Linked DNA regions of Homo sapiens. The main gene of each other region encodes a partner of the protein of the gene in region 2 in a complex. Each region holds a gene or a part of one and is shown on either strand. Other genes may lie near its edges.

The links.
Region 1: THUMPD2 (region 2) and TRMT112 share a complex: the UniProt entries of both Homo sapiens proteins name them as parts of the heterodimeric THUMPD2-TRM112 methyltransferase complex.

What each region holds. Positions count from the first base shown.
Region 1 is NC_000011.10:64,315,592-64,322,188, forward strand, and holds TRMT112 (multifunctional methyltransferase subunit TRM112-like protein), read right to left. Parts: upstream 1,969-6,597; 5' UTR 1,936-1,968; coding exon 1,858-1,935; intron 1,775-1,857; coding exon 1,673-1,774; intron 1,557-1,672; coding exon 1,467-1,556; coding exon of another isoform or gene 1,416-1,466; exon of another isoform or gene 1,378-1,415; coding exon 1,270-1,377; 3' UTR 869-1,269; downstream 1-868. Other genes in the region: ESRRA (steroid hormone receptor ERR1), read left to right, coding at 116-375; PRDX5 (peroxiredoxin-5, mitochondrial isoform L precursor), read left to right, coding at 2,625-2,795, 4,143-4,277, 5,070-5,201, 5,274-5,312, 5,416-5,477, 5,995-6,100. UniProt on the Homo sapiens protein: Acts as an activator of both rRNA/tRNA and protein methyltransferases. Together with methyltransferase BUD23, methylates the N(7) position of a guanine in 18S rRNA.
Region 2 is NC_000002.12:39,774,639-39,786,531, forward strand, and holds the start of THUMPD2 (U6 snRNA (guanine-N(2))-methyltransferase THUMPD2), read right to left. Parts: upstream 4,621-11,893; 5' UTR 4,602-4,620; coding exon 4,476-4,601; intron 1-4,475. UniProt on the Homo sapiens protein: Catalytic subunit of the THUMPD2-TRM112 methyltransferase complex, that specifically mediates the S-adenosyl-L-methionine-dependent N(2)-methylation of guanosine nucleotides, most probably at position 72 (m2G72), in the U6snRNA of the major spliceosome.

The DNA.
Region 1 (6,597 bases), on a different chromosome or scaffold from region 2:
ATCAACAAATCCTCGTTTGGCTCTTCCTTAGGCCCCATCCAGCAGTGCTCAAGATACGGGGAGTGCCCTTGCCAGAGATAGCCCAGGCCAACACCACATTCCTCTCTTCTTGCAGACTCTGTGCACATCGAAGATGCCGAGGCTGTGGAGCAGCTGCGAGAAGCTCTGCACGAGGCCCTGCTGGAGTATGAAGCCGGCCGGGCTGGCCCCGGAGGGGGTGCTGAGCGGCGGCGGGCGGGCAGGCTGCTGCTCACGCTACCGCTCCTCCGCCAGACAGCGGGCAAAGTGCTGGCCCATTTCTATGGGGTGAAGCTGGAGGGCAAGGTGCCCATGCACAAGCTGTTCTTGGAGATGCTCGAGGCCATGATGGACTGAGGCAAGGGGTGGGACTGGTGGGGGTTCTGGCAGGACCTGCCTAGCATGGGGTCAGCCCCAAGGGCTGGGGCGGAGCTGGGGTCTGGGCAGTGCCACAGCCTGCTGGCAGGGCCAGGGCAATGCCATCAGCCCCTGGGAACAGGCCCCACGCCCTCTCCTCCCCCTCCTAGGGGGTGTCAGAAGCTGGGAACGTGTGTCCAGGCTCTGGGCACAGTGCTGCCCCTTGCAAGCCATAACGTGCCCCCAGAGTGTAGGGGGCCTTGCGGAAGCCATAGGGGGCTGCACGGGATGCGTGGGAGGCAGAAACCTATCTCAGGGAGGGAAGGGGATGGAGGCCAGAGTCTCCCAGTGGGTGATGCTTTTGCTGCTGCTTAATCCTACCCCCTCTTCAAAGCAGAGTGGGACTTGGAGAGCAAAGGCCCATGCCCCCTTCGCTCCTCCTCTCATCATTTGCATTGGGCATTAGTGTCCCCCCTTGAAGCAATAACTCCAAGCAGACTCCAGCCCCTGGACCCCTGGGGTGGCCAGGGCTTCCCCATCAGCTCCCAACGAGCCTCCTCAGGGGGTAGGAGAGCACTGCCTCTATGCCCTGCAGAGCAATAACACTATATTTATTTTTGGGTTTGGCCAGGGAGGCGCAGGGACATGGGGCAAGCCAGGGCCCAGAGCCCTTGGCTGTACAGAGACTCTATTTTAATGTATATTTGCTGCAAAGAGAAACCGCTTTTGGTTTTAAACCTTTAATGAGAAAAAAATATATAATACCGAGCTCAAAAACACTGTGTTTGGTGTCATTGGGTCAAGGGTTGGGGATACACACGGCAGAATTCGGAAACAGGGTATAGATCAACAAAAATACACAGTCATAACAAGAAAAACTGGCGCCTGGCACAATCAACTCTCAGTTTCCTCTTCACTCAGCAGCATGTTGGGGATCCCGCGGCTGATGGGGAACATACGTCCAGATTCCGGGCACTGCAGGGTGCCCTCTATCACTTCCACCTGCGGGCAGGGAGGGACAGAGCTGAGCACTGGCAGCCTCAGTGCGGGAGGCAGGTGGCCCGGGAAGCAAGTGATGGGCCGCTTCTCACCTCCAGCAGCAGGTGGTGCATGGTCCTCAGAAACTCCTCATTCTCCTCATATCCCTCAACCGGCCCTTTCGGCACCTGGATCAGACGCAACTGTGGGCAAGAGGCCAAAATTATCTCCGGGCATCCCGAACTCCCGCCTCAGCCCGGCTGAGGTGTGCCCGCCCCGCATTCCCCGGGATATGCTGGGGCGGGGTAAGGATCCTCACGTTATCGGCCGCCTCCAGGAACGCCGACCACTCCACTTTAGGTATCATACGCGCCACGAAGTTGGGGTTGAATTCCACAGGGCAGATACGGACCTCGGTGGCCTGCAGGGCGGAGGAGTTTAGGCAAGCACTGGACCCCGGCCCACCATCCCGCCCGAAAAGGGAAGACTGCCGCCGGCGGGTACCTGGAGGCGCAGGGGGAAGCCACGGGACCCCACCCCCCGCACATGCGAGCTCAGCAGATTGTGGGTAAGCAGTTTCATGTCGCCGCACAAACTCTCGCCAGGCCGGAACCGGAAAAAGGTCGTCCTCCGCTGCCTCACTTCCGGGGATGCTCCTCTCGATGCTATTGGATAGCCAGGAGAACCGGAAGTGGCGAACTTGCTGGAACTTCTCGTGTTTGTGGGAGCTGAGGTAGGTAGGTGAAAGACCTGTCGGGTCACGCGCCGCTACCGGAAGCGTCTCAGCAGGAGGTTCCTACGGCGCACGCCCAGCTTTTTTTTGCCACAAATTCTTCGTAAGATGCAAATCATATGCAAAATAGCTGCAATGCAGGAGCTCTCGTTGAATGCAAAATAAACACATTTTACTCCTACACAGGCGCCTAACACCGTCGTCCTCTGTATCCCACTTTCGGTTAAGGGGCAGAAATACCGCCCTATCTGTAAATTAGGCCCATGGAAGCCGAGCCGCACCTCATTCCTATATGCAAATTAGCTGCTCCAGTGCCGAAAGCTCCGCCCCATTTGTAGTTGCGTCGGCTGTCCAGCACCCAGTGCAAACGAGGCGTGGGTCCCGGAAGCTCTGTTCTGCGGGTGGCCGCTCGCGCCTGCGCAGTGGAGGCGGCCCAGGCCCGCCTTCCGCAGGGTGTCGCCGCTGTGCCGCTAGCGGTGCCCCGCCTGCTGCGGTGGCACCAGCCAGGAGGCGGAGTGGAAGTGGCCGTGGGGCGGGTATGGGACTAGCTGGCGTGTGCGCCCTGAGACGCTCAGCGGGCTATATACTCGTCGGTGGGGCCGGCGGTCAGTCTGCGGCAGCGGCAGCAAGACGGTACAGTGAAGGAGAGTGGGCGTCTGGCGGGGTCCGCAGTTTCAGCAGAGCCGCTGCAGCCATGGCCCCAATCAAGGTGACCGCTGGCCCGGCCGGGCCTGACATCCCCCACTACCCCCATGGCAATCCCCGTCCCGCTAGTCTGAGAGTATCGCTTTATTTCCTGCCTGCCAGACCCCTCCCCTCCGCCCGCCCGGCTCATCCCTTCAGAAGGCCCTCGTGGCTGCCCACCTTTCTCGCCAATCGTGGGGGCCTCACCTCCCGGGACAGTCCCGAGGCATTGTGTTTTTTGTTTTTTGTTTTTTTTTGAGACGGAGTCTTTCTGTGTCGCCCAGGCTGGAGTGCAGTGACGCAATCTCTGCTCACTGCAGCCTCCGCCTCCCGGGTTCAAGCGATTCTACTGCCTCAGCCTCCTGAGTAGCTGGGACTACAGATGCGAGCCACCACGCCCAGCTATTGTATTTTTAGTAGAGACGGGATTTCACCCCGTTGTTCAGATTGGTCTCGAACTCCTGACCTCAGGTGAACCCCCCCCGCCCCCCCCCGCCTCGGCTTCCCGAAGTGCTAGGATTACAGGTGTGAGACACCACTCCCGGCCTGATTTCCCCTATCTTCTGAAACAGCTGTCCCTTAGCGCCCCCGCGGGGGCTTACCCCATCCCACTCCATGACCTCCCCTCCCCCCATGGCGAATTCCCACCTTTCTGTCTTTCACTCACTTCCTGGAACCGTCCCCAGGGCCTTGGACCTTCCCCCTTCTCCTCCCAAACCTTGTGAGACCCCATTCCCTTTCTACTTCATCCTGCTCTCAACCTTTGGGCTCCTCAGAGGCCCTCACCTCTGACTCTCTCTCCCTACCCACTCTGGTCCCATGAAGCCCTCAAGTACTCTGGGGATGGATCCTTCCCCCTTCAAAAGATTCCTTCTTTTGTTCTACACCTCCTGGGTGTAGGGGCCTGGACACCCTCCCCCAACGTTCCACCTGCCGCTGCCCTTCCTCTTCCTCCTCCTGAGGGTGGGACCCTCAGACCTGGCCAAGATCCTCTCCCTCCATGTTGTCAGGGACTCCTCCTCACCCCCAAATACAGCCCTCTAGCCCCTGTCCATTTTATTCCACTCCTTTCCTGTAACCTAGACAGCATGTTATGCAACCCTTTGCGACACATGGGGAAACCTTCCCTCCCTTTCTCTGTTGTCACCAATGGCCCCTTAAGAGGAGCAGGGCCACCTTGAAACTTGGAGGATATGGGGTAACCCAGTGGGAGCGGGCAGGGAGGGCCCTTGGAAACTGACAGGGCTGGAGTATCCTGCTGGGTTTCAGCCCCGGTTCCTGCAGGCACAGCTGCCAGGCTCTCTGTTCACCTTCCTGCCTCTGGTTTGCCCCGGCTCCCTCACCCCCCTTACCCTGGAGTCCTTCCTTCTAGGTGGGAGATGCCATCCCAGCAGTGGAGGTGTTTGAAGGGGAGCCAGGGAACAAGGTGAACCTGGCAGAGCTGTTCAAGGGCAAGAAGGGTGTGCTGTTTGGAGTTCCTGGGGCCTTCACCCCTGGATGTTCCAAGGTGAGGCCCTTCCCCTTCTGAAGATCAGGACCTGGGATCTTTTGTGTTGCTCTTAAGTCCTCCACATAGTCCTGATAGGACTCCTAAAAAGCATTTCAGTGCCATCACAAAACAAGTAGAGCTGGGTAGAGCTGGGCGCGGTGGCTCACGCCTGTAATCCCAGCACTTTGGGAGGCCAAGGCGGGTGGATCACGAGGTCAGGAGTTCAAAACCAGTCTGGCCAAGATGGTGAAACCCTGTCTCTACTAAAAATGCAAAAAAATCAGCCGGACATGGTGGCGGGCGCCTGTAATCCCAGGTACTGGGGAGGCTGAGGCAGAGAATTGCTTGAACCCAGGAGGCGTAGGTTGCAGTGAGTGGAGATCGTGCCTCTGCAGTCCAGCCTGGGTGAAAGAGCGAGACTCCGTCTCAAAATGAAAAAAAAAAAAAAGAAAACAAGTAGAGACTGCAAAAAGGGAACAGTACCAGGAATGTTGGAGAAAAACATACTACAATTAAATCCAACACCCCTGTTGGTCCTGCTAAATGACAGGCACTGTGGAAGGTGCTTGGGACTCAGATAAATAAGACATAGATCTGCCCATGGAAAGTTCACGTCTGGACCATAAGGCATTAGGTTTCATTCTGAGCTTCCTAGTGGCCAAGGCAAAAAGGAAATAGAATGGTTTAGACAGCTCTCATTGTCTGATCAAAGGTGTTGAGGCAGAGCACTGAGGAGGGCCTGGAGATAAAGGGTGGGCTGGGGGTCAGATGCAGTTATCCCTTTGCCGACCCTTTGTTCCCCTTCCTCAGACACACCTGCCAGGGTTTGTGGAGCAGGCTGAGGCTCTGAAGGCCAAGGGAGTCCAGGTGGTGGCCTGTCTGAGTGTTAATGATGCCTTTGTGACTGGCGAGTGGGGCCGAGCCCACAAGGCGGAAGGCAAGGTGAGGTGAGGGGCCTGCAGGGAGTCAGGACCAGGTAGGATATTCTTCTTGTGACCTTTACTTTCTCTGCAGGTTCGGCTCCTGGCTGATCCCACTGGGGCCTTTGGGAAGGTGAGTGTTCCCCTGACCGCCACAGGGACATGGCAGTGCGGGGAGCAGTGGGGGCCCTTAGCCTCTTCAAGGATTTCTGACACTTTTCTCTGTCTCTTCTTAGGAGACAGACTTATTACTAGATGATTCGCTGGTGTCCATCTTTGGGAATCGACGTCTCAAGAGGTAAAAGTGGAGAGTCCTCTGTGGAGAGAGTCCTCTGTGGGAGAGAGTCCTCTGTGGGAGAGAGTCCTCTGTGGAGAGGGTCCTCTGTGGGAAGAGTCGTCTGTGGGGGAGAGTCCTCTGTGTGGGAGAGTCGTCTGTGGGGAGAGTCCTGTGTGGGGAGAGTCCTCTGTGGAGAGAGTCCTCTGTGGGGGAGAGTCCTGTGTGGGGGAGAGTCCTCTGTGGGGAGAGTCCTCTGTGTGGAGAGAGTCCTGTGTGGGAGAGAGTCCTGTGTGGGGAGAGTCTTCTGTAGGGGAGAGTCCTCTGGGGAGAGAGTCCTGTGTGGGGGAGAGTTCTCTGTGGGGAGAGTCCTCTGTGTGGAGAGAGTCCTGTGTGGTGGTGAGTCCTCTGTGGGGGAGAGTCCTCTGTGGGGGGAGTCCTCTCTGGAGTTCTCTTGGGCCCCTGGCTGTTCACTGCCTGTCTCCATGCCCAGCCTCCAAGCCCAGGCTGATGCAGCTGGCTGGGCCCCTCTTTCCGGCAGGTTCTCCATGGTGGTACAGGATGGCATAGTGAAGGCCCTGAATGTGGAACCAGATGGCACAGGCCTCACCTGCAGCCTGGCACCCAATATCATCTCACAGCTCTGAGGCCCTGGGCCAGATTACTTCCTCCACCCCTCCCTATCTCACCTGCCCAGCCCTGTGCTGGGGCCCTGCAATTGGAATGTTGGCCAGATTTCTGCAATAAACACTTGTGGTTTGCGGCCATCTCCTTGGTTATGAATGGCTGTTTCGCTGAGCGCCAGGCATTCTGGCATCATCACAGACTGGGTGAGAATGGTGAGGGCGCAGATGGGCTGAAAGGGAGAATGTAGGGGGTCCTGCTTAATTAAGGGGGAGCTAGGGAGGGCCTTTCAAGGGAAGTTTTTTTTTTTTTTTTTTTTTGAGACAGTTTCACTCTGTCCCCTAGGCTGGAGTGCAGTGGCATGATCTCGGCTCACCACAACCTCTGCCTCCCAGGTTCAAGCGATTTTCCTGCCTCAGACTCCCCAGTAGATGGGATTACAGGTGTCTGCCACCACGCCCGACTAAGTTTTTGTATTTTTGGTAGAGACGGGGTTTCACCATGTTGGCCAGGCTGGTCT
Region 2 (11,893 bases):
GAATTTTGGTGCTTATGACTTCAAAAACTGCTGAAGCTACTAATTCTCTTTTTCTTTACTGCTTGTAACTGTTCATATTTAATACAACACTCAGAGAAATAAGGCATTTGGAATATTTCATTCTCATGTTTCTTACCTGAAAATTTATTTATATATACAATCTGTTTTTTTCTATCTAGAATGAAATCATAACCAAGTATCTAAAAACAGCTGGTTTTATGTATAACACTCCCGAAGATGAAGTAACAGCCTTGATTAATAACAGCTCTATTATCTGCTAGCATATCTAAACAGCATTTTTCCTTTCTTTTAAAATTCATGGATTCAAATTTAACACAAAGATTAAAAGTTCAAATCTAGGCTGAATGTGGTAGCTCATGCCTATAATTCCAGTGCTTTGGGAGGCCAAAGCGGGAGGACTGCTTGAGCCCAGGAGTTTGAGATCAGCCTGGACAACATGGTGAGACCCTGTTGGTACAAAAAGTAAATGAGCTGGGCACAGTGGCATATGCCTGTAGTCCAAGAGGCTACTCAGAAGGGTAAGGTGGGAGGATTGCTTGAGCCGGGGAAATCAAGGTTGCAGTGATCTGTGATCACGCCACTGTTCCCTAGCCTGAGTGACAGAGCCTGATCCTGTCACGATTTTTTTAAAAAGTTTAAATCTATGCAAAAACACATCATGATATAGGGAGGTACCAAAGGTCTCCTAATTCTACAGATGCCATTTAGTTACAGAATTAATTTGAAAGTGCTACGTGATGGGTTAAGGTGTTGTTTGAGTTTGTTTTGGTTTATTTTAGAAGAAGGAATTCAAAAATATGTTTCACTTAATTTGTAAAAAGGGCATTCAGCTGGGCATGGTGGCTCATGCCTGTAATCCCAGCACTTTGAGAGGCCAAGGCGGGTGGATCACTTGAAATCAGGAGTTCAAGACCAGCCTGGCCAACATGTTTAGCAGAAACCCTGTCTGTACTATAGATACAAAAATTAGCTGGGCACCTGTAATCCCAGCTACTTGGGAGGCTGAGGCAGGAGAATCGCTTGAACCCAGGAGGCGGAGGTTGCAGTGAGCCAAGATTGCGCCACTGCACTCCAGCCTGGGCGACAGAGTAACACTATGTCAAAAAAAAAAAAAAAAAAAAAAAAAAGAGGCATTCAATCTAAAGGGAATGCAGAAAATCTTTAAGGCAACCTTATGCAATTATTCCATTAAATGAAAATAACTATGGAATAACTTGACTTCCTGCTTAATTCTACCCTATTACCCTCGACTGTGATGCCACCATTAAAAAACAAAAATTTATGTGGCCTATTCAGGACCTGTGTTAATAGTGTTTGATATGTGAGTTTATAAAGATCAATGAATCAACTGACAGGACTCTTCTGGTGAACTGACATTAGAGATATCTCTACAACATTCAATTTTATCTTAAAATAACTGATCCTACTACTAGTCTTACAATAAATAGCAGTACTTAATAATACATTAAACATCATTATGAAGTAAAGCTTAATTTTTCTCAATATATTACTTTCTTCAAAGTAGTCTAAGTGATATGTGTTTGTAGATATGTAAATTAAATATTTAACATCATCCAGGGACTTATGAAGAAATTTGCCATACAACGAGAGGGGAGAAAAAACATCAAACCTGAATCTGACCAAGTTCTAGATAAAACTTACAGAATTCCAACTTACAGGAAATACAGAGGATAGAGGAACATGTTAAACTACACCATAGAGACTCAGTATACTATTTTTTTTTTTTTTTTTGAGATGGAGTCTCACTCTGTCACCCAGGCTGGAGTGCAGTGGCGCGATCTTGGCTCACTGCAACCTCCGCCTCCAAGGTTCAAGCAATTCTCGTGCCTCAGCCTCCCGAACAGCCGGGACTACAGGTGTACGCCACCACACCTGGATTTTTGTATTTTTAGTAGAGACGGGGTTTCACCATGTTGTCCAGGCTGGTCTCGAACTCCTGACCTCAGGTAATCTGCCCGGCTTGGCCTCCCAAAGTGCTGGGATTACAGGCATGAGCCACTATACCAGGCTGGATTCGGCATACTATTTTGTTTACTTTTGTATATTTTTGAAATTCTCCATGATAAAAAGCTAAAAAGAATACACAGGAAATTTTCCACTGCAAACTGTGTGTTGGGAGTTCTCTGAGAGGGGAGCATGTTTTCATGTTAAAATGGTAGCACCTGGGCTTATCAGCCACCCTACTAAAAGAAAACCTTTTGGGGCTGGCACCCAGAAATACTCATTTTCAACAAGCTTCCTCAGTGATTCTTATGTTCATGAAAATTGGAAAAACACATTAAAATGAAGTGATTACTTTCTTAAACAATCATTCTTGAATTAATCTGTTTTGTAAATTTACATTTTAGAGTGTTAATTTCCTTGATGCGATCCAAAGTTTCTAACACTCTCTTATCATTGAAAGAATGTTTTAAGTATTCCTGTACAACTCATTGTATGGGAACTAAAATTGAGCACCAACTATTTGTTAGGCAGCATGCTACCTGTGCTATCTTTATTTCAGGGACTGCAGTAATCCTTTAAAGTAGCTATCATCTCTATTTTACATCCAAGAAAATTGAGGCTCAGAAATTTGAGTAATTTGCCCAAAGTTACAAATCCACTAAAGGAATATATAAGATCTGCACACAGGTCTTTTGATTCTAAAGACCATACGTACTCTACCGTGGTGTTACAGAAATAAACTACATCCAATGTTCCAGGGAAGATTCCCATGGTAATTTAGCCTAGTGGTAAAGCACATGGGCTTTAAAGCTAGAGAGACTCAGAGACAAGTCCCAATTTTCTCTTTTTTTGGTAAAATATGGAGGTAAAAGTCTATCAGATAGGAGTCTTTTGAGGATTAAATCATAACATGCACATAACTTGTCTAACATTTTAAGTGTTTAATAAATGTTAGTTGTCATCACTGTTATTTCAGGATTGCCTTAACTTTGAGAGTTCACTTTGTATCAGAGCAACTTGGGTGGAATTTCAGAGATTATTTGTTCAGATCCCATTTCCAGACCTATCTATCTTTCAAACATACAAGAGCAGAATATGGAAATTCCCAAATCTACTGGCATTTAATTACTCCCACTGTCAAAAAGTTTTCCCTGTATTTAATTGAATTTTCTTCCTGGTAATAAAGTTTTCCCCATTTCATTTGTCTTTAGAGAAGATGGAGAACAAGCAGAGAGTCTTTCCTTTTTCTAATAATCCTACATATTAATTGGGCCAAGCTCTCTCTCTCTTTCATACCAAGCACTCTAAGTTAGCATTTAAAAAAACAAGCCAGCGCACCCCTATGTCATGGTCATATAGTGGGCCTGGTTTGAACATGATTATATACTCATTCTTGATTTCCCAGCTCGGGTTTGAATCCCATCTTTGCGATTTTCTAGTTGCATGACTTGAATAAATTCTCGGACTTACCTGTGCTTCATTTTTCTCATCTGTTAAATGTGGAACACCTACCTTATAGGGCTGTTGTGAAAAGTACGCAAATAAATATAGGGTAAAGATCTAAGAACATGTGCCTGACACATATTAAATGTTCAATAAATGTCAGTAGTTATTATATATTGATGCTTTTTAAGATTAGCTACATTCAATACTCTATTAAATTCTGTGACCCAAAACACAAGTGGCAGGTAGTCTAACAAAACTGACATAATTCTTCACGACTCCAACCTTTCACTGCAGAAACTCCTTTTGTGGGCTTCCCACACTGTAGGAGCTGCCAGGGTGGAGGGGTTAATTTCATTTAGGAAGCTCTCCTTTTCCAAGAGTACATCACTCACAGTGTCCCATACACCCCATCAAGATACCTTTTCTATTATACCTTCATCCCCTACTTTCAAGAAACCAGTTTTCAACATTCTAAAACCTAAACCGATGCTTAAAACCTTGTTCATTTCACAGAAATCAATAACAGATAACTATGAGGCCTGCAAGAGTATATTATTTTTCTGGCTGCTATTTACTGCGTGTTTAAAGTGTACTTTGCATACGCTATATAATTTAATTCTCACAACAATCCTATGTAGTCAAATACAATCACTGTCAAGAAACTAACAAAAAGTCAGGTAACTGAACTTGGAGATTATGTTTGCATTTAAAGAGCGAAGGGTTCTAACTCTGACAGGCCAGATTCTAATTACAGGCACTACTTACTACTTTAAAGAATCCAGGAAATAACTTGCCTCAACACCTCTCTTAAAAACTTGAGCCCTGAGAAGTGAGGAACTGGATTTGCTATACAAGGAAAGAAAGGAATGGTGGCTTCTCTCGGCCGGAGCGGAAGCGCCTGCCAGTCAACCTCGGGGGTCGGCGACCGTCGCGTGGAACAGAGAGGGGCGCCAGCGACGCTTTCCCGCGTCCACGACTGGGGTGGGCAACAGGGCAGGGACAGGGCCGCCCACCTCCCCAGGCGCGCAGCGAGGCCAACTCACCTGCGTGGCCGCCAGCCGCGCCCGCACCTCTCGCATTACGAACGGCTCCAGGCCGCGACCCGCAGTGCAGAAGAATCGGGCGCCAGCCTCAGGCCCGGACCCTGGCTCTCCACGCGCCTCCGACATGGCGGCTCAGGCGCGCCCTCGCGCCTTCGGGTCACGTGGCCTCGGGCGCGAGCGGCTCGCTCCTGGAGGCGGCGCGCAGGGGCGTGTGATGCCAAAGGGGAGAGGGAGAGGGAGAGGGAGAGGGGGAGGGGGAGAGGGAGGGGGAAGGAGAGGGTGAGAGAGACGGAGAGCCTGGGAGGGTCGCATCAGCCCTCTGTGGCCCCTATGGGTCTTCCTGGTTGACCATCTGTCCCCTCCTTGATTAGGCACCAGAATGGGTTAGAATCACAGGTGGAAGGGTTAGAATTGATAATTCAGTCCAGTTGCCTTATTTTGTAGATTGAGGAAATTAATGCCCAGAGAGGTCAAGAGACAGCGAGTTAGCAGCACAGCTGAGGCTGGAGCCTAGATTTCTCCCTATCTAACATAATGCCTTTTCCTCCATTCCTCCCAACTCCGTCCTCTTCCTGTCCTTCATTCCTCTCCTCTACTCTTCTCATAGAAGGAGCCCTGGTCTGTTTTCACAAAGAATCGGGCCAAACGTTGGAATCTCCAGGACGGAGAGCAGAAGTTCCTGTTCTCTAACAAACGTCTGCGTTCTGAAACAGCTCATATTTCTTGCACTACTTAGTTAACCATCCAGCCATAGATGAATCAATGTGCCATCTAGTTTTGGGCACCTGATTTGAATGGTTCTCCTAACGGTATTTGAAGGCATTTTTCTAAACTCTGAATTTTAAAATGGAAATGAAAATATTACTTGGGAAGCATAGACAGAATCCATGTTACAAGATAAACAGCGTGAAATTAGCTCTGTAGCTGTATATTGAGTCAGTTATACAGAAATGATAAATGCATGTGTGTCTCTGACAAGGGGCTGTCCTGTGCTTCAGAATGGGATGTTAAGGTGAAGAACTGATACTCCCTCACCTCCCCCGACACTCCCACACACACCCCCGCCCCCACCCAGCTCATGCTCTACTGGGCCGTACAGTAAAAATTCTTCATGGAGTCACATAACATGAGCTTTTCCAAGGTTCAGTCCTAAGACTCTTCTGATGCTGCTTTTTATTTTTTATTTTTTGCGACAGGGTCTCCCTCTGTCGCCCAGGCTGGAGCGCAGTGACGTGATCTTGGCTCACTGCAGCCTCCACCTCCTGAGCTCCAGTAATCCTCCCACCTCAGCCTGTCCAGTAGCTGGGACCACAGGCAAGCCCCACCACACCGGGCTAATTTTTGTATTTTTTGTAGAGAAGGGGTTTCACCATGTTGGCCAGGCTGGTCTCGAACTCCTGAGATCAAGCGATCCGCCTGCCTCGGCCTCCCAAAGTGCTGGGATTACAGGCACCCAGCCCTCACACACTACCGTTTTGATGAATTCTTTTCTTGCCCTCAGACACATGTTTTCCTTTTCTGGGCTACTGCCGTAGTTCATTTTAACTTCTCTATACTTTGGGGTTCTGACTGTCAAGTCTGTCTGGGGAGGACAGGAACCCTCTTTAGTTCTCTCTACATTCTGTGCCCAAGATGTTAAGTATGCAGATAGGATGCATTCCATTCAGTTCAACAAATACTGAACACCTATTCTCCGCCAGTCACCACCCTGTCTTGAGGATTCAAAGATGGGTAAGCAAGGGTTTGGACTTCAAGGGCTTAGAGGATGGTGAAGTTGAATGACTCACTGAGGACATACCCGGGAAGCTATGACAGCACCGACAAAAAGGAGGCAGGGAGGGCTTCCTGGACAAAATCGCTCTTGAGTCCAGCATGAAGGATGTGTAAGAGGGAGAAGCAGCAGATGAAAATGAGACGGCGTGTGGGGGGTGGGGAACAGGAAAGCCACGATAGCGGTTAAGTGTTATTAGAGCATAAAGTATATGAGTGGAGTAGATAGAGATGCGGTAGAGCGGTGGGTAGGGGCCCAGTTATGTCAGTACAACCAAAGGCAGCTGAAAAAATGAAATGACCTATTCAGTCCAGCACCGACCAGCAGTGTGCTGGCCTGGGTGAAACCACAGCTGAGCTGAGGCTGCAGTTTTGCAGAGCCAATCGATCTTCCCCTTACTTTCTCCTCTTTCTTCTGATGTCTTTTCCCCTCCAGGAGCCTTTGGTCAGCAAGGTCGGGGCTACTCTTGTTTCATATGTGGGAGTCATGTGCATTTGTTCCTTTTGAACTGTGCTGCAGTATGTCAGCTGTACCAATGCCCTTCACAAAATGCTTGCAGTGCGATGGAATGGGGGAGTTCTGCCTCTTTAGGGAGAAATTAGTTTCGTTTTCTGGTAAGAGAGTTGCCTGGAATTCTCTCCCCCATTACTCAGGTACTCTTTTCTCCATCATCTCTTCTTCTTTAAAAAAGTCTCTTCTGAAAACTATGGATCCCTATAGACAAATTTAGCATATCCAGCTGCAATTTACTGTTCGAATATTACATATTTCAACATGTAGGAAATTGGAAGTCGGCAGGAACAATTTTAGAATGGACAGACTTTTAAGTGGAGGTGTTTTAAGAATTTAGGACAAGAATATTTGCTTTGAGATAGCTCCCTATTTTGGTGCCACTGGCAATTCTTTTAGTTCTTAAAGGTGTATGATGTATATACTTATATATTAAAATGCAAGTGCTATAGATTGTGAAATCCTTGAGGATGGGATGACTTCATCTGGGCATCTGTAGCGAGAACACTGGCTTGCCTGTGGTGGCCTCTCAAATGTATGCCAATAAAAAGTAACTAAATGAAAGGGCAACTAAGGAGGCCCCTCTCAGGAGAATTGCTGTAACTGCCCTATCAGCAGGGGCCTTTGCAAGCAGGATACAGGAATAAGGGCAATGTAGTGAGGCCAATGAAGTAGAGAAGTGAGAGCACAAAGGGGATAGGAGTACCTCCAAAATAAACTTCTTCACAACTTTCCTTTCTAGTTCCTCTCTTCCTCACTATCTCTTCTTCCTCCCTATACACTTTATAAATAATGTTTCTTACCCAGGAATACTCCTCAGAATTACCTGAGAAGTCACCAGTGTCAAGCTTGCCACCCCACTCTCCTGTATTCCAGTACAGTTGAGTAGGGTTGGTGACAAGCCTTGGCCTCTTCTCTCCATGAGATGAAGAACCGTTGCTAGATGCCAAGCAATTCAAGTGCTAACGTCTTCAAAATGCCCACTACTTCCCTTCTCCCAGGCCTCTGCTTATATGGTTCCCTTTGGCTAGAGCGCTCTTCTCTTCCTTTCTTTCTTTTTCTTTGAGGATAAGCTAGAATGCCACATCTTCTCTGGTGTACTTTCCTGCCTTTCTTGTACCCTTTTATGCAATATTTTATACCTTTATCATTCATTTATTCATTCATAAATATTTGTTGAGTTTGTGGCAAATGTGCCAGTTAAATGTTCCAGCCTTTGAGAAACTTTTAAATCAATGGGAGGTAATGGTGACAGGGCTGAATTGCTGAGATGGGCATATAAAGGATGACAATACAGTGTCATATATGGGAATAAAATGAAAGCAACTGGGCCCAGCAACGGTAGCCACTTAATGAAGTTGAATGAATGAGCTTATTCTGAAGCTGAGTAAGCCTTTGTCATGGTTTTGGTTTCTTATCTCCCTTTGAGCACCATATTAGCCCATTCTTGTACTGCTATAAAGAAATGCCTGAGACTGGGTAATCTATAAAGAAAAGAGTTTTAATTGGCCCACTGTTCCGCAGGCTCAACAGGAAGCATGGCTAGGGAGGCCTCAGGAAACTTACATTCATGGGGACAGGGGAAGCAGGCTTCTCTTAGATGGCTGGAGCAGGAGGAAGAGAGAGGATGGGGAGGTGCTGCACACTTTTAAGTAACCAGATCTCATCTCACTCACTGTCGTGAGACCAGCAAGGGGGAACTCCGCCCCCATGATTCAATCACCTCCCACCAGGCCCGTCCTCCAACACTGGGGATTACAATTCGATATGAGATTTGGGCAGGGACACAAATCCAAACCATATCTCTGCCAAGTCTGGGGCATCATCCTTCTGATGGGCCCCACCCACCTCCACAGGTGGAGCCTTTTTGCTAACCAGGGCATAGTCATGTGATCTAGACATTACCAGTGAGCCTCACGTGACTCAGAAATGAGCAATGTGGGGGAAAAGGCTCTTTCCACAATTCATTTTACTTCCTGGGGTATTGTTGGGGTGTCTGACCTTCAGGAACAGCTTCATGAACAGGATTGAGTTCCTGAGGCAGAAGTGGAACTGCTGGGGGTGGTGGTAGTAGTGGCAGCAGTTAGTTTTCTGGTCAGGCCAGTTTCTGAAAGCTTAGCTTCCAGATTGGTTTTCCAGACTGCCCAACAAATGAGTCATACACACACACACACACACACACACACACACACACACACATACACACACACACACACGCACGCTTTACTTTGCTTAATCAGTTAAAGTTAGCATCTATTTCTTGCAACAAGGAATCTTGATTGATACAGGCATCCACTCTTCCCAGGTAGGAGCAGCTAGCTTGGTTTGCTTCTCTCCCTGTGATTTGTATTAGCTTGGTCTCTTCCCCCATTCATTTGTGAGCATTGCACTGTGGAGGTATGATGAACTCCTGCCACGTAGCCCCACAGAGTAACTTGGAAAGAGTAGGATTTTATAAATTTTATGGAATTCAATTGTGTTATGGTATTGTGGTAAAACCACAGATACAGACACATGAATCTGTCAGACAGACACATTCCAACCAAGTCAGTATAGATTGTGAAAAAGAGAATCTACATATTTTTACGACTGCAAGTGCAAGCCATTTGGGAAAAAACTATTGGTCACATACTGATCCTTTAAACCACTTAAGTACACACAATAATCATCTTGAATGGTGCTTCTTTGAACATACAATCAAAAGGAGAAAATTCAGCAGAACATTTCATGGTATATGTAAATACTGTCTTTAAAACAGTATTTGCTAATTAGTGTTTATAGCACTAGTTTAAATGTAGAATCAAAATTCAAAAGATACAATCTTTATGCTCTGATCTGGAGAGATAATTCTTTTTTTATATGTTATTTTTGCTTCAGATCTATAGTGCATGAAATTACTTTGATATACAAGTATAGTTGACTATTTCCAATGTCTTTTCTGAAAAGTGTGGCATGTATTTAATGCATATTTCAAGACATGAGGCTGTTTGATGTGATTTTGTTTAAATATATTTTGAGCTCATAAAACTCAAAATATAGACCTAATGATGCCCCAGTTGGAAGAGAGTATGGATATTATTTCTTGGATATATATGTTGAATGAATGAATGACTATATCTGCAATTTTCTTCAATTTACTTGAATCAACTGTAGTGACTAAATAAAGCCATTTTCTTTTTGCAGTTATGTTCACCTCCCTCAGACTATTGTTTTAATATTCCTTTTCTCTTGTTGCATTCATGATAATATTGACTATGAATTATTATTTTCCTTAGAGGTTTGCTATTACCTAACTTTTTCTATTTCTTGGTACAAAGAAAGCCCCAGAAATGTCCAACATTAGCTAGGATACCTATGTTTTGATATTTATCCTTTTCATTTTCCTGTATGTCTTATTCCATTTTAGTAGATGGTCATTTATTTTGTGTATTTTCTTAGTGGTAACTGAAAAAAATAATTCCCTCAAAACTCAAGCAGATGTGATCTGCAAATAAAAACAACAAAGGGTTAGCTTTTATTTTCTCAAAAACACAAATAGAGTACCTTACTTCATTATGAATGGTATTTGGCAGAATAAAATCTGAAGAGTTTATTAGAACATTGGCTTTATTCAGTCAGTATTGCTCCTGTCGTTGGCATGAAGGAAGAGTAGACTATGGAACAAGCAGACTTACTTATTACATATTTGTCTTTTTATATTTTTCTTTTTGTTGAAGAGTGATAATTACTTGCTGCCCATGGATATCTTGCATGATTTTGAAAAATGGATTTTAGCACCGTTGAAAAAGTGTTCTCTGTTATATCTACACATAATCAGGCCTATCCTCTAATGATTTTCTTTTAAAAAGTCTGAAATCTAATAATTAAAAATTTACTATTTATATTCATATTTAATGTTACAATTTTTGCAATGAGTATGAATTACTTGGCTAAACAGAAAAACAATACAGATACAAAACAAAAGCATACAACCTGAAGCACTGGCTTAGGCAATCATTTCATTCTCTCGTAAAACATCTTTGAAATAAGACATAATGCCTGAAATTATTTGATGCCAGTTGAGCTTTCAGATCACAGACAGGTAACAATATTTGCACCTTCAATCACTATGTATGGCTTTGGTGCTCTGTCTCTCTGATCAGTTTAGATGATATGGAACTTCTGTCTCATAAACTTCGAAATCGAAATGTAGCCAGGTTAAGAAAAATAATTTTAAAAGCTGGTCCTGGAATTCATCTTAGGTACAAAATAGTCTGTTTACGAAAATTTTTTGATGGAGTTTAGTGAGGCTCTGAAGTCATAAACAGAGAAATACAGAGATAATTAAACTGTTCTGCGTAAGAAGTCAAAAGGAGGTAGGAAATACCCTAACGGGGGGGAAAGATCAGATAATGGGGAACCTGTGGAACAGCATCGTGCAAAGCTGAGACCAGTGAGGATGAGCTGGCCGTAAGAGACTCGCTGTGGGGTGTTGGCTGAGAACTTCTAAGAAGGATGTTCAGTGCTCAAATTTGTTTCTGGCACTGCCAGGTTAAACCATCTTTAGTGGTCCAAACTTTCAGTAAAATAAACAAACAAAACACAGCCATTTGCTTCAAATAGTAGGAGTGAAAGTACCAGGGTGATGCACTCAAAGTAAGGTGCTGTGATAAGGAAAAGGAGTGGCATCCTCTGCATGGGTTGTGGAGGTCTTTCAATGGAGTACATTCAGGAGAAGCAGGAAGTCAGAGCACAGGCTGGTAAGGGGCACCTAAGCATGTGGTCTGTCATCAGGGAATGCACAGAGAGGGGTGCTGGGTCATCATTGCCATAGAATGCGGGTGCAAACCAATTTTAAATCAAGATAATCCAGTTGACATCTGAGTTTGGCTGAATTTATTCCTCACTGACAATAGATTTTCTATAAATCAAACCTCTAATGCTTAAGTGCTTATTACTTATTGTTGATAGGTGTGGACAATGCAATCTTGGGCCAACTCAGGGCAGGTTAATTAATGGGGATTATAATCAGGGGTTGGGCCTTATAGTCTCAATTTTATATTTTGTGATTTCTTATAGGTTTTCCAGCACTTTGGGAGGCTGAGGCGTGTGGATCACCTGAGGTCAGGAGTTCGAGACTAGCCTGGCCAACGTGGTA